Regions from separate parts of the Homo sapiens genome. Here all the other regions are linked to region 3. The links come from fine-mapping of genetic effects on gene expression. A gene starts in region 3. Each other region holds a variant in brackets. All regions are shown on one strand. Distances are from middle to middle. Region 1 overlaps VOPP1 (VOPP1 WW domain binding protein). Region 2 has its middle 86 kb from the start of LANCL2. Region 3 holds the start of VOPP1 (VOPP1 WW domain binding protein). Region 4 has its middle 140 kb from the start of SEPTIN14. Region 5 overlaps SEPTIN14 (septin 14).

Evidence for each region. PIP is the estimated chance that this variant, and not a neighbour inherited with it, causes the effect.
Region 1: its variant is the best candidate, but not a certain one, in a credible set for the expression of VOPP1 in lung (TOPMed, PIP 0.58).
Region 2: its variant is the best candidate, but not a certain one, in a credible set for the expression of VOPP1 in whole blood (INTERVAL, PIP 0.60).
Region 4: its variant is the best candidate, but not a certain one, in a credible set for the expression of VOPP1 in whole blood (INTERVAL, PIP 0.65).
Region 5: its variant is the best candidate, but not a certain one, in a credible set for the expression of VOPP1 in whole blood (TOPMed, PIP 0.64).

The regions. Positions count from the first base shown.
Region 1 is chr7:55,491,548-55,495,695 of GRCh38, reverse strand. VOPP1 (VOPP1 WW domain binding protein) reads left to right here. Exons shown (of 5, transcript NM_030796.5): 4 at 3,278-3,414. Among named protein-coding and RNA genes, the nearest start is that of VOPP1, 79 kb to the left of the region's middle. RefSeq lists an enhancer at 1,423-2,622. The variant G/A (reference allele first, on the strand shown) is at 2,305.
Region 2 is chr7:55,449,617-55,453,764 of GRCh38, reverse strand. It overlaps a transcript of VOPP1 not described here. Among named protein-coding and RNA genes, the nearest start is that of LANCL2, 86 kb to the right of the region's middle. The variant T/C (reference allele first, on the strand shown) is at 1,809.
Region 3 is chr7:55,570,427-55,574,426 of GRCh38, reverse strand. VOPP1 (VOPP1 WW domain binding protein) reads left to right here and starts at 1,925. Exons shown (of 5, transcript NM_030796.5): 1 at 1,925-2,156. The coding sequence starts at 2,103. It overlaps VOPP1-DT (VOPP1 divergent transcript), which reads right to left and starts at 1,661. Exons shown (of 17, transcript NR_187585.1): 1 at 1,110-1,661. RefSeq lists enhancers at 1-132, 463-542, 2,872-2,931 and a silencer at 1,692-2,671.
Region 4 is chr7:55,717,581-55,721,728 of GRCh38, reverse strand. No RefSeq gene overlaps it. Among named protein-coding and RNA genes, the nearest start is that of SEPTIN14, 140 kb to the left of the region's middle. The variant G/A (reference allele first, on the strand shown) is at 2,511.
Region 5 is chr7:55,805,725-55,809,872 of GRCh38, reverse strand. SEPTIN14 (septin 14) reads left to right here. Exons shown (of 10, transcript NM_207366.3): 8 at 2,615-2,783. Among named protein-coding and RNA genes, the nearest start is that of SEPTIN14, 55 kb to the left of the region's middle. The variant A/G (reference allele first, on the strand shown) is at 1,911.

The DNA of each region.
Region 1 (4,148 bases), 79 kb after region 3:
TGGGGTTTTATGGAGAGGCTTTAGGCAGGCAGACTCCTGAAGAAGATGATGTCTAAGCAGATAATGAGGTGTGGATACTTTCAAGCCAGAGCACAGAACTTCTGAAGCCAGAAAAGTTGGAGAAAGCTACAAAGCTTTTGACTGGGTCGTCAGAGAGGGCGTTTGGGGCAGAGGGACAGCACCTTGCAGGGCCAGAGTGTAAGAAGAGTGGATGTGTTAAAAGGTGATGGGAAGCTTCTGTGGTGAGGATGAGCATTTGGTGGACAGGAGTGGCGGCAGGATGGGAGGGAGGGGCTGCTCTGCTGCCTGGGCCCCACAACGTTTGAAGGTGTCTCCTGACCATAAAACAAAGGTTTTGAAAGAGAATGCCTTCAGAGTTCCTGCCAACTCCAAGATCTTGAGGATCTTTTCACCAAGGAGGTCTGGATGGAATCAAGAGTAGAGAAGGTGGACCGATGGCACCCTTGAGTGGACTCAGAAAGCACAGTGGGCCCGAGTGAGAACTAGCCTAGGTGGCACTGTGGGTGAGTCCACAGCAGGGTCCCATGCGGAGTCCTGAGTGGGGTCTGGGCAGGGCTTGCACAGTAGCTGCACCAGTCCTTGGGACTGCAGAATTGAGAACTGCTACACTCGGGGCTGGGGGGTCGGGGGGAGGAATCAAAAAACAAATTGAATTAAAGTAACCAGGTAACTTCTAATGTTAAAAAAAAGGCACAAACCTTCCTCTCTTAATCCCTTTGAAAGCTTCCAAAACCTGCTGAGCAACCAAAGAGGACATCTAGGGAACAGCCAGCCCGTACCCCCAGCACTGCAAGAACTGCCTTTCTTACTACTACTCCTCTCTCCCAGCCAACACCCTGCTTCGTCTCTTTCCTTGTTTTTAGAAGCGCTTTCTCCTGCCCCTTTGTTAGTTTCTCTCTTTTAAAATAAGTTCTTGGCCTAGCACAATGGTGCACTTTGGGAGGCCAAGGTGGGAGGATCACTGAAGCCAGGAATTTGAGATCACTCGGCAACATAGTGAGACTCCGTCTCTACCAAAAATTATTTTAAATAAATTTTTAAAATAAACATAAATGAACAGAATAAGTTATCAGACTATGATTTCAGTAAGGGATGAAGTGGATCCCGTGTAACTCCATTCCAGCCTCGCCTTATGCTTGCTCACCATTAGTCTAAGGTGGGAGCTGCAATGTCATTTCCTTTTGTGTAGAAAAACAAAATGTTCTTACTACTGTTGGCAGTGGAACCGACATTTTAGCTTATTTTTTAGACAAGACTAAGATCTCAGGTGCCTTCTGCATTTTTCAATCCAGCGAGCCTGGTCTCTTGGAAGTGGCCAGTGGCTCTGAGAAAGTAAACCCTGTACACATCCAGCCTCTCTGTGCTTTGTATATTTCTACCCAGATACTAACAGCAGGACTCAGTGCTGAGTGTAAGACTGTCACTGAGCCCACCTGAGGGAAATCGGTTTTAGGAGAGGAAGCCGTTCCCTTTGGGAACTTAGTGAGTGTTCTTGATGCCGAGCACATTAAGCCTTACATCACCACACTCCTGAACGGTTTGGGTCTCCGGGCTCCCCATGGCCGCTCCCTCCGCCCATCATGGGGACTGAGCCTCCAGGCCTCCTGCTCCCACCTTCTCCGGCCCCAGTACCTGCTCTGTGTTCTTTCCACCCAGAATGCCCCTTCTTCCCCTTCAGCTTGTCTCTTCTCATTCTTCAGAGCCCAGCCCAGCTGTCACTAAAAGAAATGCAGTGTTCCCAGTCTTGCTCACCACCACAGATACCCTTGTTCAAACCTCTTGGTGCACTGAATTATACACTTAAAAATGATTAAAATAGTAAATTATATTTATGTATATTTTACCCAATCACACACACAGTATTCTTCTTGCATCGCTCATTTTTCTTTTTTAGCACTTACCAGGTTGTAGATAAATAATTGTAAAAGTTGGTATCTGTCTCCCTCCTCTGTAAGCTCAGTGTTGGCGGGGTCGGGGGGCCCCTCACCTGTCTACTCATTGCTGTGATCAGTATGGTGACAGGGCATAGCAGGCACCTGAAGATGACTTGCTGAATGAATAATGAATTAGACGGCAGATGACAAAGGCCACAGTTTCAGTCTTTCCTGAGTCATTCCTGTCTCGTGCCTCTGGCTTTTCTCCCTGCTCAGCCTTCCAAGATTATCCAGTAAATACTTTTGGACTGGCTGAAGGCCTTGACATCACATTAATATTCTCAAAGGCTTTATCGTACGCTCTTAAGAGCTTCTTTTATATGTGGACCAGTGCCACTGACTGCGACCC[G/A]CTCTGCTGTGTGCCCATCCTCACAGGGCAGCAGGTGCCCTCACCGTGTGGGTGTCTGCATGGCTTCTGGACAGTTCCATGGGTCCCCTCATAATTTCAGTTCAGAGATGGGCAAGAGTTTGCCAGTTTGCCAGTTTTGTCTACTACTAGTTCTTCTCAAAGTGACTCTCCTCTTTTTCTAGAAACAAAAAGTATGGTGCAAGTGAGGAATGGAAGGAAGCCATTCATGTGTTCATTCTGCAGTCGTTTACTGAATGCTGATGAAGTGATAGTCAATGAGAATTCACAGATGGGTTGGACAAAGGTGCTACCCTTAAAGAGTTCAGCTCTGCTTCTGTTATTGTTTGTATTTTATTTCTATTGATAGATTGTATTTCTCTTGATTCTATTTTCATTGATTGTATTTCTATTCCCATAGTTTCTCTGTAATTAAGGTGTGCTCCAGGAAGGGTACTTCTGTTTCCTTGTGGGTGTTGATGTGATAATGGAGACGTGGTCTGGAGGATAAATGTGCTCTGCCTTGGTGCTTTGACAGTGAAGAATGGAAAACAGAGACAGACAGCGAGGCCAAGGCTGGATCGGCCATGGCTTTCAGACAGGATTTAGATGGCATCTCCTCTTCTAACTAAAATGTCGAGCTGAGGTCAGAGCCGTGGACGAGGAAGTGACTGCATGAGCTTTTTCTTTTACGGTGCTTTTCAGGGTGGGTGGCCTCACCAGGGGCTGTCCCAGAGGCCGCAGGTCAAGCATCTACTTGTTGCTATCCACTAGAGGAATGTCCCTGGGTAAAATGGGCCCAAGAGGACCAAGTCTGAGGTGCGAGCCTCATGGCTCTGCCCTTGCCTTCTGACTCGTGCATTTGGGAGTCATTGGTCCCGGACCCCCGAGGAGTGCATGAGGCCTTTGAGCTGTAGGGCCAAGCCCTCAGGGCCCCCACCTGGGAGCACCACCCTCACGTCTGTACTCTCCTCAGGTTCCTTCTGATGATGGGCGTGCTTTTCTGCTGCGGAGCCGGCTTCTTCATCCGGAGGCGCATGTACCCCCCGCCGCTGATCGAGGAGCCAGCCTTCAATGTGTCCTACACCAGGCAGCCCCCAAATCCCGGCCCAGGTCAGCCAGCCCTGTCCTTGTCTCTCCTCCCCACAGTGTGTGTCGTCTGCCAACATTTATAAAGGGTACTGCTGCAGAAAGGGTACTGCCAGAAGAGAGCGCTCAGGTGTGTTATTCATTTTTTTAGTTCTGATGACCAGCTCCATTGTGCATTTGTGCAGATAACAAATGTAAGGTATATCGCACGCCCGTCACCTCATATTCTTACAGTTATCAGTGTGCCACATATGCACGTGATATGATGCAGTTTGTATAAGCGTATTATTTGCTCTCTGCCCTTTTCCTTAAACATTATTTCACATATAAATTTCTGTGTAGGAGCGGTAATACCCCTGCCATTTTTAGTGCTTCTGGACTAGATACTAATTATGTTACTAAATGGTAATTTGCTTAGATATTTTATTATTGCTGATAATTTGTTTTGTTTTCTCATGTTTTGTCTTTTATTCATGCATTCAACAAGTATTCATTGTGCAGTTACTAGTATTCCAAATACTTACAAAGACCATAGCAATAGACATTCTTGTACAGGTCACATGTAGTCTGTTTAGTGCATAACACCCAAAGTGACATCCCAGGGTCAAAATGAATTAGCTGTTTCTTAATTCTTGTAAAACATTGCCTTAGCCATCTAAAACTCCTACATACTGTGGTGGGTGGTGTGGACTTCCTTAGGACACAGGCCAGGGAGCTCTCTGATGACAGCGGGGAGCCAAGGGTCCTGGAGGGCTGGG
Region 2 (4,148 bases), 120 kb after region 3:
CAACAGCATGTGCTCACTTTTTATCTCTATGTCTCATTTGGTAATTCACATAATATTTCAAACTTTTTCATTAATAAATAACTGTTATGGTGATCTGTGATCAGTGATATTTGATGTTAGTGTTGTACTATAGGGTGCCAATAACTCTGCCTATACAAGATGGTGTACTTAATCAATAAACGTGTATTCTGACTGCCTTACCCTCCATTCCCTCATCTCTTTCCCACTCTCTTCCCTGACACACAACAAACAATAATGAAATTAGGCTAGTTAGTAACCCTACAATGGCCTATAAGTGTTCAAGTGAAAGGAAGAGTTGTATGTCACTCATTTTAAATCAAAAGCTAGAAATGATTAAGTCTAGTAAGGAAGGCATGTCAAAAGCTGAAACAGGCTGAAAGCTAGGCCTCTTGCACCGGGTAGCCAACTTGTGAATGCAAAGGAAAAGTTCTTGAAGGAAATTAAAAGCGCTATTCCAGTGACACACAATGCTGATATAGTCTTCAATTCTATGGAGGCTGAAAGAGGTGAGGAAACTGCAGAAAAAAAGTTTGAAGCTAGCAGAGGTTGGTTTATGTGGTTTAAGAAAAGAAGTCATCTCCATAGCTTGGAAGTACAGGGTGCAGCAGAAAGTGCTGATGTAGAAGCTGCAGCAAGTAATGCAGAAGATCTAGCTAAGACCACTGAGGAGGGTGGCTACACTCGACAACAGAGTTTACATGTAGACAAAACAGCCTTCTACTGGAAGAAGATGCCATCTAGGACTTTGTAGCTTGAGAGGAAAAGTCAGCGCTTGTCTTTAAAGCTTCAAAGGACAGACTAACCCTCTAGTTAGGGGCTAATATAGTTGGTGAGCTAAGTTGAAGCCAGTGCTCGTTTATCATTCTAAAAATCCTAGGGCCCTTAAGAATTATGCAAAATCTACTCTGCCTTTATCCTATAAATGGAACAACAAAGCTTGGATGACAACACATCTTTTTACAGCATGGTTAGCTTAGTGTTTTAAGCGCACTGCTTCTCAGCAAAAACGATTCCTTTTAAAATATTATTGCTTATTGACAAAAGACCTAATCACCCAAGAGCTCTGATGGAGACATAGAAGATTATTGTTGTTTTCATGCCTGCTAACACACATTCATTCTGCAGCCCATGGATCAAGGAGTCATTTTGACTTTCAAGTCTTATTGTTTATGACATACATTTTGTAAGGCTATAGCTGTCATAGATAGTGATTCCTCTCATGGATCTGGGCAAAGTAAATTGAAAACCTTCTGGAAAGGATTTACTATTCTAGATGCTGTTAAGAACATTTGTGATTCATGGGAGGCAGTCAAAATACCAACATTAACAGGAGCTTGGGAGAAGTTGATTCCAACCTTATGGATGACTTGAACCCCTTCATGGAGGGGTTCAAGACATCAGTGGAGGAAATAACTGTGGATGTGGTGGAAATAGCAAGAGAAATATAATTCGAAGTGGAACCTGAAGTTGTGACTGAATTGCTACAATCTCATGGTAAAACTTTAATGGATGAGGTATTTCTTCCTATGGATGAGTGAAGAAGGTGGTTTCTTGAAATGGAATCTACTCCTACTAAAGATGCTGTGAATATTGTTGAAATTACAACACAGGATTCAGAATATATCATAAACTTAGTTGGTAAAGTAGTGGCAGGGTTTGAGAGGTTTAACTCCAATTTTGAAAGAAGTCCTACTATTGGTAAAATTCTGTCAAACAGCGTCGCATGCTACAGAGAAATCTTTCCTGAAATAAAGTCAATCAATGCGGCAGACTTCATTGTTGTCTTA[T/C]TTTAAGAAATTGCCACAGCCAGTCCAACCTTTAGCAACTACCACCCTGATCAGTTAGCAGCCGTCAACACTGGGAAAACACCCTCCACCAGCAAAAAGATTATGACCCACTGAAAGCCCAGATAACCGTTAGCATTTTTAGCAATAAAGCTTTTTTGTTTGTTTTTAGACAGAGTCTCGCTCTGTCGCCCAGGCTGGAGTGCAGCGGCACGATCTTGGCTCACTGCAATCTCTGCCTCCTGGGTTCAAGTGATTCTCCTACCTCAGCCTCCTGAATAGCTGGGACTACAGGCACCCGCCAGCACGCCCAGCTGATTTTTGTATTTTTAGTAGAGACGGGGGTTTCACCATATTGGCCAGGCTGGTCTCAAACTCCTGACCTTGTGATCCGCCCGCCTCTGCCTCCCAAAGTGCTGGGATTACAGGCGTGAGCCACTACATCCGGCCACAATAAAGTATTTTTTAATGAAGCTATGTACATTGTGGCTTTTAGACATAATGCTGTTGTGCACTTCATAGACTACAGTATAATGTAAACAACTTCTATATGTAGTGGGCAACCAAAAATTTGTATGACTCAAACTTTATTGCAATGTTCACTTAATTATGGTGTTCTGGAACTGAACCTGCAACATTTCCCAGGTATTCCTGTACTTCAGGCGTTTCTTTTGCCCCCTACCCCATAACTTTTTATTGTAATGTTCCTGTCTCAGATGGGCTGTGCGGAAGTGTCCAGAAAGGATCTCGTTCCACTCCTGTGCCTGTGTGGAAGGGGCCCAGTGCCCTCCTATAAATGGTGTGGTGGGTGCAAGGATGATTGTCAAGACACCCCCTACCCGCAAGAAGAAGGTGAAGGGAATTAGATTTGAGTCCTGTTGAATCTCCTCCCTAGGAGATCTCCCTCTGATGCCAGCCCTGAAGATCCAGGCTTCACTTTTACAAAAAAAGATGTATGTTCTTGTGCAGGTCTCAAGAGTATAATGAAGGAGGAGCAACGTGGCTTGGTCTGTTTTCAACAGTGACAGGAATGTTGGAGAGCACTCTCTTTGTCTTTCTCCCTGGACTCCAGAAATCACAAACAGTGCTGATATCATTTGCCACAGACCTAGTATTCAGTGCACATGGGAACAGAAGATTGATAACAAGTGTGTACCTGTGAAAACTGCCTGGGCGCAGCCCTTACCAATGACAATCCTTCATGTTTTTGTAGAAGAAAGGAATTTTGCATCTTACTTTAAAGCTTACGTGGGGAAAAGCTTTTAGATGTATATTCTTTACCAGTGCTGTCCACTAAAGGTATGATGTGAACCAGTGCATTGCTTTAAATTTTCATTACAAAGATTAATCAAAAAAATTATTTTAATGATATTCAGCCTAATATATCAAAGTATTATTTCAACATGTAATGATATAAAAGTATGTGAGTGAGAAATGTTACTTTTTTCCATATTCAAAATCCAGTTTGTATAACACATACTCAATGCACACTTCCACTTGGAGTGGCCACATTTCAAGGGCTATAAGAGCTGGTAGCGCTGGTGAGTGATTTACTGGACAGTGCAGAACCAGAGTGCATAGGGAAATGCCCAGCTCCTGGGTTCTGGGTGGTTACACAAGTTCCAGTGCTGGGTGGTCAGCCCTGAAATGGCATCCAGGTGCTGCTGGGGACACCCAAGAGAAGAGGCGGAGGACTGGTGGGACCTCAAGAACACCCCCAGGTCGGGGAGGTAACACTAGGACCAGCCTGAGGTCTCCTGCCCGAAATGTGCCCCCAGCCACAAGTCGGTGACTCCAACTCCCAAGGGGAAGCTCAGGGGTCCCTGGAAGGAGTGAGATGTTCTCAGCAAATGGAAGTAGGTGAAATGCAATCGTTGCTCGTCTTTTTCTTTATTACCATCCTTGTCAGTGTGGGTGCACAGAAATGTAAGATGCGGACAGAGGGCAGAAATCCTGGCTTCTCATCCAACCGCATTTCCAAAGGTCTGCTGACCACCTGGGTGCTACGCCTCAAGGGTGACATGTTTGTTTCTCCCCTCAAGGGTGACAGGTTTGTACTTAAAGGTCTCTGGGACCTCTGGCACCAGTGACATCCCTGATGCCCAGAAGTAGGCGTGTTGAGGGGCTGCAGGGGCCGCAGGAGGGTGGCAGGACCTACCGAGGCAGGGGCGGTAGAGGGCACAGTGCGGGGGTGGAGGGCTCCTGTCCCCTCGGGAGGCCAGGCTGCTCGCTGCTCTCCTCTCCCAGGACAGGCTCGGTGGCCAGAACGCCTCTGCAGGAACCTGGTCGGAGCTCAGCTGGCTCCTTCCAGGTGACCCCAGCCAGTCACAGGGAGGGGCAGCT
Region 3 (4,000 bases):
CTTTTTCAGTGGTATCTGATGCCCTTATAATTTGTGCTCAAGGAAACAGCCTGGCTGGTTAGCCTACACCCCATCCTCCAACCATGCCAAGCAACCACCACATCATTCAGGACCAAACAGAGAGCACACAGGAGAGGTATCAGACTGAGGTGAAAGCAGAGTCACAGTTCTAATTTTATTCTTGGAAAAAAACTTGCACAAATTACAGGAAGTCGAGCTCAGCAAAACAATCTTCCAGGCAGAGAGAGATGCAGAAGGGAGGTTATGTCAGACACTAGTAGGTTGCTCACAATGCAACAGAACCACAATTTGCACACGAATACATCGTGGACACAAGTCAAAGTTCCATTTTAACCCATTAATGATGGAAACAGTGGGATGACAAAGGTGCTTCAAAGGAGAATGCAGGCAAGTGACCTACACACACAGTCAAAAGCGGGGAGAAAAGAGAAAGGAAACGCTGGGAATGAAGTGGCTCAATCAGATAGGAAGCTGGTTATGATTCTCACCTTAAGCAGGGGTCATTTGTCTTATACACACACACACACACACACACACACACGTTTTAATGGAGACAGGTTCTTGCTGTGTTGCCCAGGTTGGGGTTGGTGAACTCCTGGGCTCAAGCAATTCTCACACCTCAGCTTCCCAGACTGCTGGGATGATAGGCATGAGCCACCCTGCCTGGCCCATTTGCATTTTTACAGGACGAGATCACTTCTATCCCCACTGGAAAAACATTTGTCTTGCTAACACACAATAAGCTTTCAGCTTAGTTTTCTACAAGTTAACTTTTCCATTAAAAAGAGTTGTAAAATGTCCTCATTGTAAATAGTAAAACTACTAGAGTTCAATGGCGTTTGGCAGGCTTGTCAGATAGGTGCCTTAGCATGACTGAAGGCCATAGGCATTGTTTCTGTCTTACTTGTAAGTTCTGGCTCTGACAGGTATAGTCAGGTGGTGCATGCTCTATATTAATCAAATTAGGCTTTGAAAGCTGGGAAAGAGTTGGGGACTTGCCTCGGGTGACATCTGTTCGTGTGACCCCCTCCTTCCACCTCCTGTACTGCGCAGCTCATGTCCTTTATGACCCTCTGTGATGCACCCACCTCCTGGTCTCCGCACTCAGCATTCTGCATCAGGTGGTTTAAGCGACTCTCCCTCCCTCTAGGCTACGGGAGCAGTTTTCTTGTCCTCCTCTCAGCCTCCAACTCAGGATCTGGTACATCTTACAAGTTTAATAGTGTTTGTTGAATAACCTCATGAAGAAGGTGGGATCTGAGCTGTGTTGTGAAAAAATAGTGTCTGTGAGGACATGGAGGTGGGGTCAGCGGAGGCGAGGACAGCGCGAGCTCCGCACAGTTTTCTGCTGCGGGAGGGTGGCCTGCAAGGCGGGGCCGGTTGCGGTCAAGTTCAAGTAGGGTCAGAGCAGGAGAACACTGGCATAAAAAATAGCCACATCCAAGGAAGCAGTGAGGTGTGGGGACCATCTATTTCGGTGGGCCTTCCCACCCCCAGGCCGGCCTTCCCATCACGCGTGGGTGTGGGGGCACTGCCCCCGCTGCGCGCAGGAACAGCGGGGAGAGCCAGGAGCGGAGCGGCTTCGGGATGCCAGACTGAGCAGTGGGTTCGTCTGCGGCCACCTCTCAGGGAACAAGCTTCCCCCCGCGGAGACTCTGCTTCTTTTAAAAGCCTTCCTGGGTTTAGTCTAGGGCGACAGGACGACCTCCCTTGGGAAGGGAGAGCCTGCCAGTCCCCCTCCCATTCGCCAGGCGGTGCAGCCCCTCCTCCCGCCCGGGGCGCGCGCACCTCAGCGTCGCGGGCCTAGCGCCCAGCAGCCGCGCCCCAGGCCGGGCCTCGGGTTCCGGGAGCCCGCAGGCGCGCGCCCGGCCGGGCGTGTCGGGAGCGCGCGGCGGCCGGGGGCGGAGCGCAGCCAGGGCTGCGCGGCGCGCCCCGGCTCCCGCCCGCTCCCAGCCGGGCCCCCCAGCGGTCGGCGGGACGGCTCCCGGCTGCAGTCTGCCCGCCCGCCCCGCGCGGGGGCCGAGTCGCGAAGCGCGCCTGCGACCCGGCGTCCGGGCGCGCTGGAGAGGACGCGAGGAGCCATGAGGCGCCAGCCTGCGAAGGTGGCGGCGCTGCTGCTCGGGCTGCTCTTGGAGGTAGGGGCCGGGGACCGGGTGCTGCCGGAGGCGCGGCGCCCACCATGCTGGCGGCTGGGGGCGCGCAGTTCCGAGGCGCCCCAGAGGACCTTGCCTGGGAGCGCAGACGGTGGAGCGACGGGGAGCCACAGCCCTGCGCGCCTCCCGGAGCTGGGAGGTGCGGGACCCTGGTGACGGGGAGGCTCCCGCCCCGGTCCGCGCCTTCCGTCGTTCCTTCGGTTTTCGCACCCCGCCCCCACCCTGCGGGTGAGCGCGTTTCCCGCGCCGACCGCCTCCGTTAGCTCGGGGTGACCTTTGTGCACCGTCCGCCCCCTCTCCCCGCCGCAGAGGGCCGAGGATCGGATGGACCCGGGGTTGGGCGGGGGTGGTCCTCGGGCGCGGCGCAGGCGCGGAGAGCCCGGGGCGCCGGGCAGTTTGGGGTTAGGAAAGGATGGGTGCCGAGCCGGGGTGAGGGGAGCGGGCGGAGGGGACTGTGGGGAAGTGTCGCGGGAGTGCCGGGAGTTGTGGAGGTGAGCAGCGGGAGGAGGCGTTCCCGCGTGTGAAAATGAAGTGCAGCCTTTAGGTGCGGGGAGGAAATTCTGCGGAGAGCCTGGCTGGGTGGGGGTGCGGAGCCGAAGCCGGCGGGGAACTTGTTGAGCGGCTTCCGGGTGCGAGCGCCCGTGACCGCATCCCTGGCGGGGACCGCGGCTGCTCCTGGCTGTGAAATTGCATCCTCGGATGGGGCCACATACTTCTCACTAAAGCAGGTTCCTTAAAATGCGAACTAGAGGAATTCTGGGGTGTCCAGTCTGAATCAGGGCTTGTTCAACTTTCTCCTTAGTTTCATTATTCTGAAGGAAATTTGCGTTAAATTAATGAAGTCAAAAGAAATAGGTAATGAATCCCATGCCTCTGTTTTAGGAAGTTGTGAAACTATCTTCCTTAATAGTTAGTGATTGGTGCTGGAAATTACTAGTTTGTCTTCGCCCTTTATTAAAAAGTAATTATTACAAAATGTTGGAGGAAAAGTGTTTCCTGAAAGGAAGGCTGGTGGACAAATTTCTCCTTGCTCCAGGCTCTGCCATAGCCGAGACTTCCTGTTTCTGTTCGGAAATATCCCCGTAGCTTGGTATTTAATGTTTTTGTGGAGTGCCTCTGCTTGCATTCTTTCCATTTATTCAGAATTTTAGAACCTTAGGAATCACATTCTCTGAGTGACTCACCATAGAGAACAAAGAAGTGAATCAGAGACCAGTAATCGCATGAAAACAGATGTGCTTGTACCTTAATGTGTGTACCTATACTTGCAATCTTTATTTTTTATTTTTATTTATTTATTTCTTTAGTTTTGAGATGGAGTCTCGTTCTGTGGCCCAGGCTTGAGTGCTGTGGCGCGATCTTGGCTCACTGCAATCTCCGCCTCCTGGGTTCAAGCTATTCTCCTGCTTCAGCCTCCCCAGTAGCGGGGACTACAGGCGCCCACCACTATGCCCGGCTAATTTTTGCATTTTTAGTAGAGTCGGGGTTTCGTCATGTTGGTCAGGCTGGTCTCGAACTCCTGACCTCAGGTGATCCGCCCGCCTCGGCCTCCCAAAGTGCTAGGATTACAAGGTGAGCCACCGCGCCCGGCCCTGCAATCTTTTTTAATCGGCACTTGATGAAATTATTTAGCGTTTCTTTCATTCTAGTTTGTGCCACCCATGTCTCCCAAGCCTTCTGTCTGAGTGGTTCTGTGCCCTATATGTAGCCTAGACGGCCTCAGTGACTCCATTCTTTCCAAAATAGCTGTTTCGTTGCATAGGAATGTATCCTCTTAATAGGAGTTCAGATCATGTCTGCAAAGTTGAAACGACCTTAAAGGCAGA
Region 4 (4,148 bases), 150 kb before region 3:
TTGCAGTGAGCCAAGATCGTGCCACTGCACTCCAGCCTTGGTGACAGTGAGACGCCATCTCAAAAAAAAAAAAAAAAGAATATAGCCATGAGGATAGTTATTTATCTCAAGTAATGTGTTGCCAATATAATGTGAGCTTTTGTGTAGGCAGTTTAGTGTGTTGACTATGATGTCTCTTGTCTTAGTGGTCCTTGGGTTAATAATTTTAAAGAGCATCATCAGAGGGTGCTACAGACAACTTTCCCATCACTCCCCTGGGGCAGTGATGGAAGGGGACAAAAACAAGCTGGTGGAGAGGAAAGGAGGGTGTTGGATGTGCTAGGTGGTTTCCATTTGCCTTTCTAGGTCCACCCTTCACCTGTTCCATTTGCTTTTTGCTCTGGGAGGCTGACATGTATGGACTACATGTGCATAGTATGGGTTACATTAATGACCCTTTGTCTTCTGGCTTTGGTTGGGTTCAGCCATTGGGACATTGTGATAAGCCATTCCTGCATCACTGGAGAGAAATACCCAAGGCTGGGTAATTTATAAGAAAAGAGGTTTAATTGGCTCACAGTTCTGCAGGCTGTACAGGAAGCATTGCATGCTGTCGTCAGCTTCTGGTGAGGACCTCAGGAGATTTATAGTCATGGTGGAAGGGAAAAGGGGAGCAGACATCTCACATGGCAAGAGCAGGAGCAAGAGAGAGAGGGTGGGAGGTGCCACACACTTTTAAACAAGCAGATCTCTGAACTCATTCATCACCGAGGGGATGGCGCTAAGCCCTCCCACCAGGCCCCACCTCCAACACTGGGGATTACATTTCAACATGAGATTTGGCATGGACACAGATCCAAACCCTATCAGGCATCAGATGTTCAAAGCGAGGGAAGAGAGTGAGGTGAAGGTATGTATTCCTCTGGCTTCCTGTCTGTAGGGTCACCATGGATTGTGGCCCTAAACTAAAGGGCCCAGTTCTGTCAGGTAGCCCCTAGCTGCCCTCTCTGTCTCTGTCATTCAAGCTCAGGTGTGATAGCAGCATTCCCCACCCAGCCACAGAGGTACTATCCCTTGTGTTTTGCTGTGTTCTGTACACACCTTTGCACACACCCACTCTGTTATTACTTTAAAAAAACCATCAAATTTACCATTGTAACCACTTTGAACTGTATAATAGTGTTAGCTATATTCACACTGTTGTGCAATATATCTCTAGAATTTTTCCATCCTGCAAAATTGAAACTTTATGCCCACTGAACAACTTCTCTTCATTTTTCCCTCTTCCTTGTCCGCTGATAACAACATTCCACTTTCTGTTTCTATGAGTTTAACTACTTTAGATACCTCATATAATTCGTGGAATCATGCAGTATTTGTCTTTCTGTGACTGGCTTATTTCACTTTACGTAATGTCCTCAAGGTTCATCCATATTGTAGCATGTGATAGGATTTCCTTCCTTTTTAAGGCGGAATAATATTTCATTGTGTGTGTATACCACATATTTTTTATCCATTTATTTGTCTATGGACATTTAGATTGCTTCTAGCTTTTGGCTATTGTAAATCGTGCTGAGTTGAACATGTGTGTGCAAATATCTGAGTTGTTGTGGTTTTGTTTTTGTTTTAGTTTAGACAGAGTGGTTTTTTTGTTTTGTTTTGTTTTTTGGGATAGAGTGTCGCTCTTAGTGCCTGGGCTGGAGTACAGTAGTGCGATCTCAGCTCATCGCAACCTCCGCCTCCCAGGTTCAAGTGATTCTCCTGCCTCAGCCTCCTGAGTAGCTGGGATTACAGGCACCCAGCACTATGCCCAGCTGATTTTTGTATTTTTAGTAGAGACAGGGTTTCTCCGTGTTGGTCAGGCTGGTTTCTAACTCCCGACCTCAGGTGATCCGCCCGCCTCAGCCTCCCAAAGTGTTGGGATTACAGGCGTGAGCCACCGCGCCCGGCTTAGACAGAGTCTTTTGTTCTGTTGCCCAGGGTCGAGTGCAGTGGCATGATCACAGCTTACTGCAGCCTTGACCTCCTGAGCTCAAGTGATCCTCTCACTTCAACCTCCCGAGTACCTGGGACTACAGTACCTGTGCACCACCACACATGGCTAATTTTTGTGTTTTTGTAAAGATGGTGTTTCACCAGGTTGCCTAGGCTGGTCTTGAACTCTTGGACTCAAGCTTCAACCTTGGATTACAGGCATGAGCCACTGCGTTCGGCCTGATTCTGTTTTCAGTTCTTTTGGGTATACACCAAGAGATAGGATTGCTAGATCATACAGTACTTCTATTTTTAATTTTTTGAGGAGCCTACAGACCATTTTCTAGAGCAAGTACATTTTGCATTCCCATCAAAGTGCACAAAGATTCCAATTTCTCCATATCCTCTCCATCACTTTTTATTTTCCAGTTTTTTGATAGTGGCCATTCTAACAAGTGTGTGTGAGGTAATATTGCATTGCGGTTTTCTTTTTCCTTCTTTTTTTTTTTTTGAGACAGAGTTTCACTTTTGTCACCCAGGCAGGAGTGCAATGGCGT[G/A]ATCTTAGCTCACTGCAACCTCTGCCTCCTAGGTTCAAGCAATTCTCCTGCCTCAGTCCCCCGAGTAACTGGGACTACAGGCATATGCCACCATGCCTGGCTAATTTTTGTATTTTTAGTAGAGACGGGGTTTTGCCTCAGCCCCCCGAGTAGCTGGGATTACAGGCATATGCCACCATGCCTGGCTAATTTTTGTATTTTTAGTAGAGACGGGGTTTTGCCATGTTGGCCAGGCTGGTCTTGAACTCCTGACCTCAGGTGATCCACCCACCTCAGCCTCCCAAAGTGCTGGGATTGCAGGCGTGAGCCACCATGCCTGGCCTGCATTGTGGTTTTTGATTTGCATTTCTCTGCTGTTTAGTGATGTGTAGCATCTTTTCATATGCTTGTTGGCCATTTGTATATCTTCTTTGGAGAAATATTCATTCAATCCCTTTGCTCATTTTAAAATTGGATTATTTTGTGGTCGTTGAGTTTTAGGAGTTCTTTATATATTCTAGATATTAATCCCTTATCATATATGAGGTTTGCAAACATTTTCTCCCATTTTTTAGGTTGCCTTTTTACTCTGTTGATTGTTTTCTTTGCTGTTCAGAGTTTTAAAGTTTGACAAAGTCCCCTTTGTCTGTTTTTGTTTTTGTTACCTGTGCTTTTGGTGTCATATCCAATCCAATGTCATGATGCTTTTCCCTTGTGTTTTTTTCCTAGTTTTATAGTTTTGGATCTTATATTTATGCATTTAATCCATTTTGAATTGATTGTTTCCTATGGTATAAAGTAAGAATCTCCAACTTTATTCTTTTGCATGTGGAGATCCAATTTTCCCTGCACCGTTTATTGAAGAGACCATCCTTACCCACTGTGTAGCCTTAGCCCTTGTCAAAGATCATTTGACCATATAGGCAAAAGTTTATTTCTGGGCTATTTTGATCTATTGGTCTATGTGTCTGTATTTGGGTCAGTACCATGCTGCCTTGATTATGATAGCTTCATAATATGTTTCAAAATCAGGAAGTGTGAGGCCTCCAGCTTTGTTCTTCTTTCTCAGGATTGTTTTGGCTCTTTAGAGTCCTTCAAGATTCCAAGGCCAGGCACCATGGCTCACACCTGTAATCCCAGCACTTTGGGAGGCCGAGGCAGTCTGATCACCTGAGGTCAGGAGTTCAAGACCAGCCTGGCAAACATGGTGAAGCCCTGTCTCTACTAAAAATACAAAAATTAGCCAGGCATGGTGGCGGGCCCCTGTAATCCCAGCTACTCAGGAGGCTGAGGCAGAATTGCTTGAACCCGGGAAGCAGAAGTTGCAGTGAGCCGAGATTGCACCACTGCACTCTAGCCTGGGTGACAGAGTGAGACTCTATCTCAAAAAAAAAAAAAAATCCGTATGAATTTTAGTTTAGTTTTTTTTTTTTCTATTTCTGCAAAAAATGCCATCAGGATTTTGGTAGGAATCGCATTGAATCAATAGATTGCTTTGGTTAGTGTGGACATCTTAGCCATATTAAGTCTTCCCATCCATGAACGAGAAATGTCTTTCCATTTATTTGTGTCCTCTTTAATTTCTTTCTTTCTTTCTTTTTTTAGAGACAGAGTCTTGCTCTGTCGCCCAGACTGGAGTGAAGTGGTGCAATTTCGGCT
Region 5 (4,148 bases), 240 kb before region 3:
CAACAGAGTGAGACTCTGTCTCAAAAAAAAAAAAAAAAAGACAAGCCATTACAAGTGCTGGCAAGCATATGGAGAAGAGAGAATTCTTTTTTTTTTTTTTTTAATTTTTATTTTAGGTTCAGGGGTACATGTGCAAATTTGTTATATAGATAAATTGCATGTCATGGGGGTTTGGTGTAAAAGATTATTTCATCACAGAGATAATTAGCATAGTACTGGCTGGAGCAGTGGCTTGAGTCTGTAATCCCAGCACTTTGGCAGGCTGAGGCACGTGGATCACCTGAGTTCAGGAGTTCAAGACTAGCCTGACCAACATGGCAAAACCCCGTCTCTACTAAAAAATACAAAAATTAGCCAGGTGTGGTGGCGCGCTCCTGTAATCCCAGCTACTTAAGAGGCTGAAGCAGGAGAATCACTTGAACCCAGGAAGTGCAGGTTGCAGTGAGCCGAGATCGTGCCATTGCACTCCAGCCTCAGCAACAGAGCGAGATTCCATCTCAAAAAAAAAAAATTGCTCACTTTAGCAGCACATATACTAACCAAAAAAAAAAAAAAAAAAAAAAGTAAGCATAGTAGCTTTTCTGTCCTCACTCTCCTCCCACCCTCCACCCTCAAGGAGGCCCCAGTGTCTGTTGTTCTCCCCTTTGTGTCTATGTGTTCTCAATATTTATCTCCTACTTATAAATGAGAGTATGTGGTATTTGGTTTTCTGTTCCTGCATTACATCACTTAGGATAATGGCTTCAGCTCCATTCATGTTGCTGCAAAGGACACGATCTTGTTCTTTTTTTATGGCTGTGTAGTATTCCATAGTGTATATGTTCATTTTCTCTATCCAGTCTACCATTGATGGGCATTTAGATTGATTCTATGTCTTTGTTATTGTGAATAGTGCTGCAATGAACATACACGTGCCTGTGTCTTTATGATAGAACAATATATATTCCTTTGGATATAAACCTGGTAATGGGATTACTGGGTCAAATGGTAGTTCTGTTTTAACTTCTTTAAGAAATTGTCAGGCCGAGCGTGGTGGCTCATGCCTGTAATCCCAGCACTTTGGGAGGCTGAGGAGAGTGGATCACCTGAGGTCAGGAGTTCGAAACCATCTTGGTCAACATGGTGAAACTCCATCTTTACTAAAAATACAAAAATTAGCTGGGCCTGGTGGTGGACTTCTGTAATCCCAGCTACTTGAGAGGCTGAGGTTGGAGAATCACTTGAACCCAGGAGGCGGAGGTTGCAGTGAGCTGAGGTCGCACTGCTGCACTCCAGCCTGGGTGACAAAAGCGAAACTCTGTCTCAAAAAAAGAAAAAAAGAAATTATCAAACTACTTTTCACAATGGCTGAACTAATTTATATTCCCACCAGCAGTGTATATATATTTCTAAGAAAAAAGGGAATTCTTAAACATCATTGGTGGGAATTTAAGTTGGTACAGCCATTTTGGGAAATAATATGAAGGTTCCTCAAAAACTAAAAATAGTATTACTGTATGATCCAGCAGTACCACTACTGGGTATGTACCCTAGTGGAATGAAATTGATCTGTCAAAAGACATGTGCACTCACATTTTTATTTCAGTCTTTTAAAATATGTTAAGACTTATTTTGTGGCCTAACATATGATCTATCCTGAAGAATGTCTTGTGTTTGTTTGAGAAAAATGGGTATTACTTTGCTGTTGGATGAAATATTCCACATATGTCCATTAGGTCTATTTGGTCTAAAGTGTAGTTTAAATCTGATATTTTCTTACTGATATTCTGTCTGGATAATCTATCCATTGCTGAAAGTAGGGTATCTAAGTCCCTTACTATTATTGTAATACAGTCTATCTCCCCCTCAGGTCTGCTAATATTTGCCTTATATATTTAGAAGTTGTGATATTGGGTGCATATATATTTACA[A/G]TTGTTATTTTTTTAATGAACTGACCTCTTCATCATGATATGATGACCTTCTTTATATCATTTTACAGTTTTTGACTTAAAGTCTATCTTCTGTGATAGGAGTATAGCTTTCCGTGCCTTCTCTTTTAGTTTCTAATTGCATGAAATATCTTTCCGTGTCTTCACTGTCAGTCTGTATGTATCATTAAAACAGCTATGTGAATTTGTTGATTGATTTTGAATATTGACTAACGGTGTCTCCTAAATATGATATATAAATGGAAATATGTAACTAAAGTATTTTCAATTGTAAGGCCTTTTTGCTAGCAGAATTTACTCTGATAAAATTATTTACACTAGTGATGTTATATTACATATTCTGTTAGCACTCCAAAATACCCAGAGGTAGTTTATAACATACTACACAATTGTTAATAAAAACCTATGGCATATATGCACATAAAATATTATTTCACTATTTCCTGCTTATTCTTCAGGTAATAAGTTTAAAGCAAATTTGCTAACCTATAAATAATCTCTGCCTATGGTTGGTATGTATAGTACAACCACACTTACATGCTTAAAAGAATTATAGCTATTAATCAAATTGTTCAGTTGTGTGTTATTTTAAATGTGTTTTTTATTCATGTATTCATTCATGAACACTTACTGATTGTCAGGGATTGATACTGAATGTTGTTGATTCATTATTATTTTTTTACTAGTGGAAAATGAAAATCACTGTGACTTCGTTAAGCTCCGAGATATGCTTCTTTGTACCAATATGGAAAATCTAAAAGAAAAAACCCACACTCAGCACTATGAATGTTATAGGTACCAAAAACTGCAGAAAATGGGCTTTACAGATGTGGGTCCAAACAACCAGCCAGTTAGGTGAGTAAAAATATTGCTAGCACAACCAAATGGATAATTTAGGAGTCCCTACAAACACAAGGTATGATAATTTGGATATGAGAATAATTATACTTCTCCCATCTTGAGCCATCATAAAGAAAACACCTGAATGTTAGGTGTTTTTATGATCTTTTGACGAAGGTAGAGATAGTAGGAACAATATAATGCGAGATCTCATTTTTATGCTGAAATATGTGTATTCAATATGTATATATGCTGAAATGTATATTGATGAAAAAACCCAGTATTTTGTTCCATTTTTTGTATTTATATGAAATGTATCTGTATTATGTGAAAGAAAGGATAGGCCGGGCGCTGTGGCTCATGCCTGTAATCCCAGCACTTTGGGAGGCTGAGGCGGGCGGATCATCTAAGGTCAGGTATTTGAGAGCAGCCTGGCCAACATGGTAAAACCCTGTGTCTACTAAAAATACAAAAAGTAGCCGGGCATGGTGGCACACGCCTGTATCCCAGCCACTTGGGAGGCTGAGGCAGGAGAATCGCTTGAACCCTGGAGGCGGAGGTTGCAGTGAGCTGAGATCACCTCACTGCACTTCCAGCGTGGCGGACTGAGCAAGACTCCATCTTAAAAAAAAAAAGAAAAAAAAAGAAAGGATAAAGAAAAAGATGGAAAAATATTAGCAAAGTTTGACAAAAGACATTAAGAAGAGTTTGATGGAGGAACCAGCTGAAAAGCAGTAGTGCAGCATCCTGGAAGTTAAATGAGAAAAGTTTGAGAGCAGGTGTTTGCTCTAACTTGAAGAATAGAGCCGGGTGCAGTGGCTCCCGCCTGTAATCCCAGCACTTTGGGAAACCGAGACAGGCAGATTACCTGAGGTCAGGAGTTTAAGATCAGCCTGGCCAACATGGTAAAGCTCCGTCCCTACTAAAAATACAAAAAAAATTAGCTGGGCGTGGTGGCGGGTGCCCGTAATCCCAGTTAACTCGGGAGGCTGAGGCAGGAGAATCGCTTGAACCTGGGCAGCAGAGATTGCAGTGAGCTGAGATCGTGCCACTGCACTCCAGTCTGGGCGACAAAGAGAGACTCTGTCTCAAAAAAAAAAGAAGAATAGGACTTGTGTTGCAAAAACATGGCACTGTAGTGTATATAATCTAGTTATATCATTCATTGTTCTTTGTAGACACCCAAAATTTAACTATCTTAAATGAATGATGATATTTTGAAAGACTTTTTGCTTTATTTTAGAGGATTTTTGAAAATCGTCTCATACATTAGAGGTTTCCCTGAATGTTATTGTCAAAAGATATGAAAATGTATGATATCCTGGAAAGTGGTGGGGATAAGAATTCACTCATATAAGTGTTGGAAAATTCTAGTATTCT